2 linked regions of the Homo sapiens genome follow. The protein of the gene in region 1 purifies or fractionates together with the protein of each later gene. This does not show direct contact. Each region holds a gene or a part of one and is shown on either strand. Other genes may lie near its edges.

What was found. Proteins that work in one complex are often made in the same cells at the same time.
Region 2: the proteins of CDCP1 (region 1) and CD82 purify together in Homo sapiens (affinity purification with western blotting; one study listed by BioGRID). This does not show direct contact.

What each region holds. Positions count from the first base shown.
Region 1 is NC_000003.12:45,081,777-45,084,577, forward strand, and holds the end of CDCP1 (CUB domain-containing protein 1 isoform 1 precursor), read right to left. Parts: 3' UTR 501-2,801; downstream 1-500. UniProt on the Homo sapiens protein: May be involved in cell adhesion and cell matrix association. May play a role in the regulation of anchorage versus migration or proliferation versus differentiation via its phosphorylation.
Region 2 is NC_000011.10:44,568,663-44,572,162, reverse strand, and holds part of CD82 (CD82 antigen), read right to left. Parts: intron 1-3,500. UniProt on the Homo sapiens protein: Structural component of specialized membrane microdomains known as tetraspanin-enriched microdomains (TERMs), which act as platforms for receptor clustering and signaling.

The DNA of each region.
Region 1 (2,801 bases):
TGGAGCCCACTTGAAAGAGGATTCTAATTATGCTGCCCAAGCTGTGGCCACATGGAGGAGAGATATACAGTCCCTGCTGAACCCTGCTCTAATTACAGGTTTGTGAGCAAAACTACTAATTGTTAACTAAATTTTGGGGTGGCTCATTACACAGCAACATCTGGTTTTCTCGGTGGATTCAATCCAATGTGCTTGGGTCTCCCCTCCTAGTGCATGGCAGATGGTGGGGGCCATGGGAACTTCCCTCTCTCACTGCTCTCCCTTAACTTTTGTTCTGGTGGCTGGTGACCTCCACGGGGCTTAGAGATCAACTGTGGTCAGTGATTAGGGTGGCCCTGGGCCTCTATGGGGGTTAGGTATTGGGAAAGGTCACAAAGGGTGGGGCCCATGTAGCCCCCACAAGAACAGAACAGAACAGAACAAGCCCTGGCCTCTCAGCTACCCATTGGCATAGCTTCCATTCCTTCCACTTGCATACAGGGAGACTTGAAAACCAGTGGTGGCGAGACTCCAAGACTATTATTTTTATTTCCGGACAAAAACATCTGCTTCACACAGTGCACGGCATCAAATGAAGAGGAAAGAACTTGTATCCCAAAGCCTGGCTTTCTGTATCATCCACAAATTAAGACAGCATCTGCTGAGCCCATGCTGAGCCTGTCACAGTCAACAACTGGGAAACCGGGGCCTCTACTGAACCAGGGGACAAGTAGCCGAAGCACTTAAACAGCTTGATACTTGTTTTTTGGTACATTTGTTTATTTAAAGCACAGGAAATGAATAAAATGCCACCTAAAAAGTATCTGCAATGAATAAATTATTTCCAGTGAAGCACTGCAGATCCACACACACCAGTCTGCTAACCTTTACCAAGGCCATGTCCGGTGGGCTTGTGCTTGTTCCAGTTGACTCTTCCTTGAGACCTTTCCCTTCTGTGCAATGACCACAGCATTAGAGACCAGTCCTGCATGCGCTGGCCTTCCTCGTAGGCATGGCAGACCACGTGGATGAGCAGTGGGCTGGCATGCAGTAGGCTTCAACAAATGGCACTTCACTGTTTCCAGTGACCCTGAAATGTTTTACGTAAGTGGGGCCTGGGCTTTAAAGAAAAGAGCCAGGGTTCCTCAGGCTGGGCCCCTTCACTGAGGCACAGCTCCAGGAAATACTGGTCTCAGGAGCCAGCAACTTGTCCAGGAGTTTTGAGCCCTCAGTTGAAGGAAAATGGCCACGTGGTGTCCTTGCAGGCAACAGTGATGTCGGTGATGGTGACAAGTAGCCAGCCTAAGGAAGGCCAATCCCACCTTGGGTGGAATGCAGGGCACCTAGTCCTGCTTGGAAGGGGCTGGGAGGTTGGGGAATGTCGAGAATGGAGGGCTAGGGCTCCACACAGTGAATTCAAATAAGGGCTCTTCAGTGAGGGAAGGAAGCCGCAGCCCTCCTTTGGCCCTTTATGCAGGGTCAGCATCTCGGCTCACAAGGCCAAGGGTCACTGGGCAGGAACCAGACTTTCAGAAGGGAAAGGTGCCATAGGCAACGCCAAGGGCATGACTTAAATATCCTATCCTCTGGAAAGTGTTCAAGAGGTCTTGCAGTACACGCCATTTAGGAGACTATAAAATTCCTTTCATTTATGCCATGTGAACAAGTTGAGGCGGTGCATTTCCAAGGTGAATTCATTGAATACAATGAAGTACATTTATTTTTTGAAGGAAGTTTTTGCCGCAGAAATATTGAACTTGGGACTGTGCTGACAAGCTATAACATAATCCCTCTCCTTCCAGATCAGAGCAGGGGTGAGGAAGCAAAAGTCCACAGTTACTGGGCAGGTAATTGGTATAAATGAGGGTGTGGGGCTGGATGCGGTGGCTCACATCTGTAATCCCAGCACTTTGGGAGGCCGAGGCAGGAGGATTGCTTGAGCCCAGGAGGTTGAGACCAGCCTGGGCAACATGGTGAAACCCTGTCTCTACAAAAAATACAAAATTAGCTGGGCATGGTGGTTTGTGCCAGTGATCCCAGCTATTTGGGAGGCTGAGGTGGGAGAATTGCTTGAGCCCAGGAGGCAGAGGTTGCAGTGAGCCGAGATTGCGCCACTGCACTCCAGCCTAGGCAACAGAATGAGATCCTGTCTCACATTAAAAAAAAAAAGAAAAAGAAAAAGAAAAAAAAGAAAAAGGGTAATGTGAGCACACATTGGTCTCATGGTCTACTCACCTGATTAGAGATTAATCCCAGTCTTTCTTTTTCATTACAATAAATGCAACCTGCAGGGGCATTGATCAGTAGAAACAAACACTCAGCCTCATTGTGGGAAGTGATAGGGCGTAGTGTGGGCTGTGGTGACCTGGTGAAGTGGACACCCCTTCTAAAGGCAGAGCTGGTGCCCAGCTCCAGCCAGTTGTTGCTAGGTGAGAATGTGAGCCCCAGCATGGCCAGATCTTCTGATCTGGGTTTTTTTTTAAGTGTTAGAGTCCGCAAGCTAAACAAAACATCCCTGTGCGCCAGATCATTTTGTAGCCTCTCCTGTGGGAGTCAGTGGCAGGAAGGTGTGGTAGGCAGAATAACAGCACCCCAAAGATGTTCTGGTCCTAATCCCCACCTGTGGCTATGTTGTCTTGCATGGCAAAAGGCTCTTCCAGGATGATGAAGGAACTTTAGATGGAGAGATTATCCTGGATCTTCCTGGTGGGCTTTGTAAGTCAAAGAGGGAAGTGGGAGGGCCAGTGTCACAGTGATGCCATGTGAGAAAAGCTTGACCAGCCACTGGAGCCTGGGAATGCAGCCAGCCTCTAGAAGCTTGA
Region 2 (3,500 bases), on another chromosome or scaffold:
ACAGCCTTCCTTCCTTCCTAGGCTGCAGGAGAATAAGCCAGGCCCCCAGGAGTCCTTCCCCTGAATAAAACCCTGCAGCCGTCCACTGTGGCATCACATGTGCCTCACTTACAAAAGCCAAGTGCAGCAAATGCAAGATAATATAGTTTTGTAGCCCAAGAAGGGCTATAACTTACCCAAGATAACACAGCAAGTAAAAGATGAGCTGGGAACGGAGCCCAGGTCCCCTGATCTCCAGACTCAAGCTCTTCAAAGACTTACATCCTGCTTCCTATTAACAGCACTACCAAAAACACCGAGCACAGTAGATCATGCCTGTAATCCCTTTGGGAGGCCAAGGCTGGAGGATCACTTGAGGCCAGGAGTTTGAGAGCAGCCTGATCAATATGGTGAAATCCTATCTCTACTAAAAATACAAAAATTAGCCTGGTGTGGTGGTGCATGCCTGAAATTCCAGCTACTCAGGAGGCTGAGACACGAGAATCACTTGAACCCGGGAGGTGGAGGTTGCAGTGAGCCAAGATTGCACCACTGCACTCCAGCCTCAGCAATACAGTGAGACTCTGTCTCAAAAAAAAATAAAAATAAAAATAAAACACTACCAAAAGCAGCAGGAACATATATAGCACTAACTATGTGCCAGGCGCTGTCTTAAATGCTTCATATGCATTAGCTCATATATCATTCTCAAACAACCCTATGAGATGAGTACTATTATTGTCTCCATTTTATAGATGCTGAAACTGATGCACAGAGCGGTAAGACACAAAGTCACGCCTAGCTGGTAAGTAGCAGAGGCGGGAATCATCCTTAGGCAATTTGATTCCAGAGTCTGTGATCTTGCCCAGGCTTTCTTCCCCACTCCCCCAGGCCCAAGCCCAGCTGGGACTCAGGAAGGCTTCTGGAACACTTGCTGCCTAAAAGGAAGAAAACCTGCCTAGAAGTCACCTCTCTGGCCAAGGTCATGCTGTAGCTCCATGGCAGAGCCAGGATTTGAACCCGGGCTTCCTAATGCCCAACTACCAGGGCATTGTTCACTTCTCCACATTGACACTGAGAGCCAAGGCCCAGAACTCTGAACAACTCCCACACCAGATCACCCTTCCACACAGCAGGGAAAGTCAAGTTGCGGGGTGGGGCGGCGGAGAAGAGGCAAAAGCTTCTGCTGCAGGGTAGGAGGTCAGAGGGGAGAGTGGGGCTTCCCAGAGCTGCCCACCTGGGGGTCTGCATGGATGATGTCCAGGATGGGCTTCCTGGAGGCCACCGTCCCATTTCTCCAGGCCCCAGCTTGAGTCCCCACAGGATAGCAGCACCTTCCACAAACAATTGTTGACTCCAAGATGCTCTTTCTGGCTGAGTCAGAGTTCACTAAAGGCCAGAGTGGCCCCTTCCTGGGTTAGGACTGAAGGAAGTCATGCTGTTCCCCTCTCAGGAGGGTAATAAAGGCCAGGCATCGGAAGAGAAGCAGAAGCTCTGCTGAAAGCAATTCCAGGACAGACGGTGCATTCCCATCTCCCTGGATCCAGGTTGCAGAAGTGCGGCCCACAGGCCTGAAGCACCAGGCAGTGGCATCCAGGTCCTGCTTCCCGGCTCCACTTTGCCAAGGAGTCACCTGGTATGTGGTACCAAGCTAGGTACTGCTGATACCCCCGGCCTCACCCAAGAGAACCACTAACCTATTCATTCAGTCATCGATCCCCAAGTGCCTGCTGTATGCCAGGAATCAGAGATACAGACAGGACAGGGCAGTGCCTGCCCAGGAGAGCTCATGGAAACACATCATACACCACAAAGTGGCAGGATCAAAGAGGAGGGTACACAGTGTAGACAAGCACAGAGGAGAAGGTGAAGGGCAATGAGGGGCTTGGGAAAGGCAGCCAAGCACAGAGGAGAAGGTGAAGGGCAATGAGGGGCTTGGGAAAGGCAGCCAGAGATGTTCAGACCTACTGCCCCTCAGGAAGCTGAGCGTCACAGTGAGGAGACCCAGCCACCCCCAGGAAGAGCCAGAGAGCCCCACATAGCCAGACATGACTGGCGTCTTGGGGCACACACATATTGGAGAGGCACAGAGGCCCTGTGCAGAAGGAAGGTGTTCTGGGAGTGTCCCTGGGGGCCTGAGAAGGAGCCTGGCACCAGCCTTGAAAGACCAACCAGATACAGCAAACAACAATGGCTCTCCTTTATTGAGCATTTACTATGTGCTAGGTATAACAATACTAAGCATTTCATGTGCACTTTTTTGTCTTCTCCTCATGACCTATGAAGTCATGACCATTATTATCCCCATTTGCAGGTTCAAAAACTGAGGCTCAGAAAGAGTCACGTAGCCAGAAATTGGCAGGGCCGAGATCTCAACTCTAAAGTCCAGTGCTTTACCGCCATGCTGTACCATCATCTCCCTAATCTGTTAACAGGCAGAAAGAAGATAAAGGTGCTTCAGGTGGGGGAAACAAGGTAAAAATAGGGAGGTAGGATCAAGTGCTCTTTGAGGGGAGCTGCCCAGCTCCTCTGTGTTGGGGTTGTATTTGTGTGTGTGCGCATGCCTGAGTATGGGTGGGTGTTCACAGACATGCCCTACTTTGCAAAGGATAGATCCCAGGTCCCAGAACTCCCCGAGAGCCAAGGAAAGAATGGGGCATCAGCAAGTCAGGGAAGGAATCCCAGAGAGAAGGAACTTATCTAAGGTCACACAACATACACACAGCAGAGCAGCAGCCAACTCCAAGGACCAGAACACAGGTCTCTTTCCTCCATCAGCTGCCTGTCCATGTCAGCACAGTGAATCAGCTGCTGACAGGAAAACCACAGTGGAAGGGGAAGCCCGGGGGTGAGTCAGGAACCAGCCAGCCTCCGAGAGACACCAGCTGGGCCTGTTGCAGAGGCCCCGGGTCTGTGGTTGTCTGCCTCTTCTTAGGGCAGCATCAGGGGCGAGGGGAGCAACACATCCCACACCACTCACTCCATGTTTACCTCTGGGCTTCCCCTCCCAGCTCCTCAGACCCCGGCTTAGTGGAGGGGAAGCGGGTGGGTAGGGCAGTTCCTGCTGAGATTAAACGGGTCCTGTCCCACAGAGGGGCCCAGGCCAAACAGTCCAGGCTCTTCCCTCCCTTCCCACCTCTCACAGAGCCAGCTCCTGGCCGTTTGATGTTCTTGATTAAGTCATAACCGCCCCCTGTGAGCTTCCCATGGGGCAGAGGAAGTGGGTATAACGGTTTGGAGCAGAAGGCCAAGGCCAAGGTCAAGCCAGAATCAGGGGTGCCAGCTGGCCCCAGATGCTCCGAATCTGAAACAACACTCAGAACTTGGGGCTGCTCAGCCATGGGTTGAGGGAGGACTGTCTGGTCCTTAGGGGAACAGGTTTGGGTCCCCAGGGTGGAAGGGGATGGCCGGTGGGAGCTTCCAGGCTGTGGCTCTAAAGCGTGAGGCCTCAAGACAGAGGGGGCCGCCCCCACATAGCGGAAACTTCAGAGGAGCCCAGGGAAGCCAAAATCCTGCCCCAG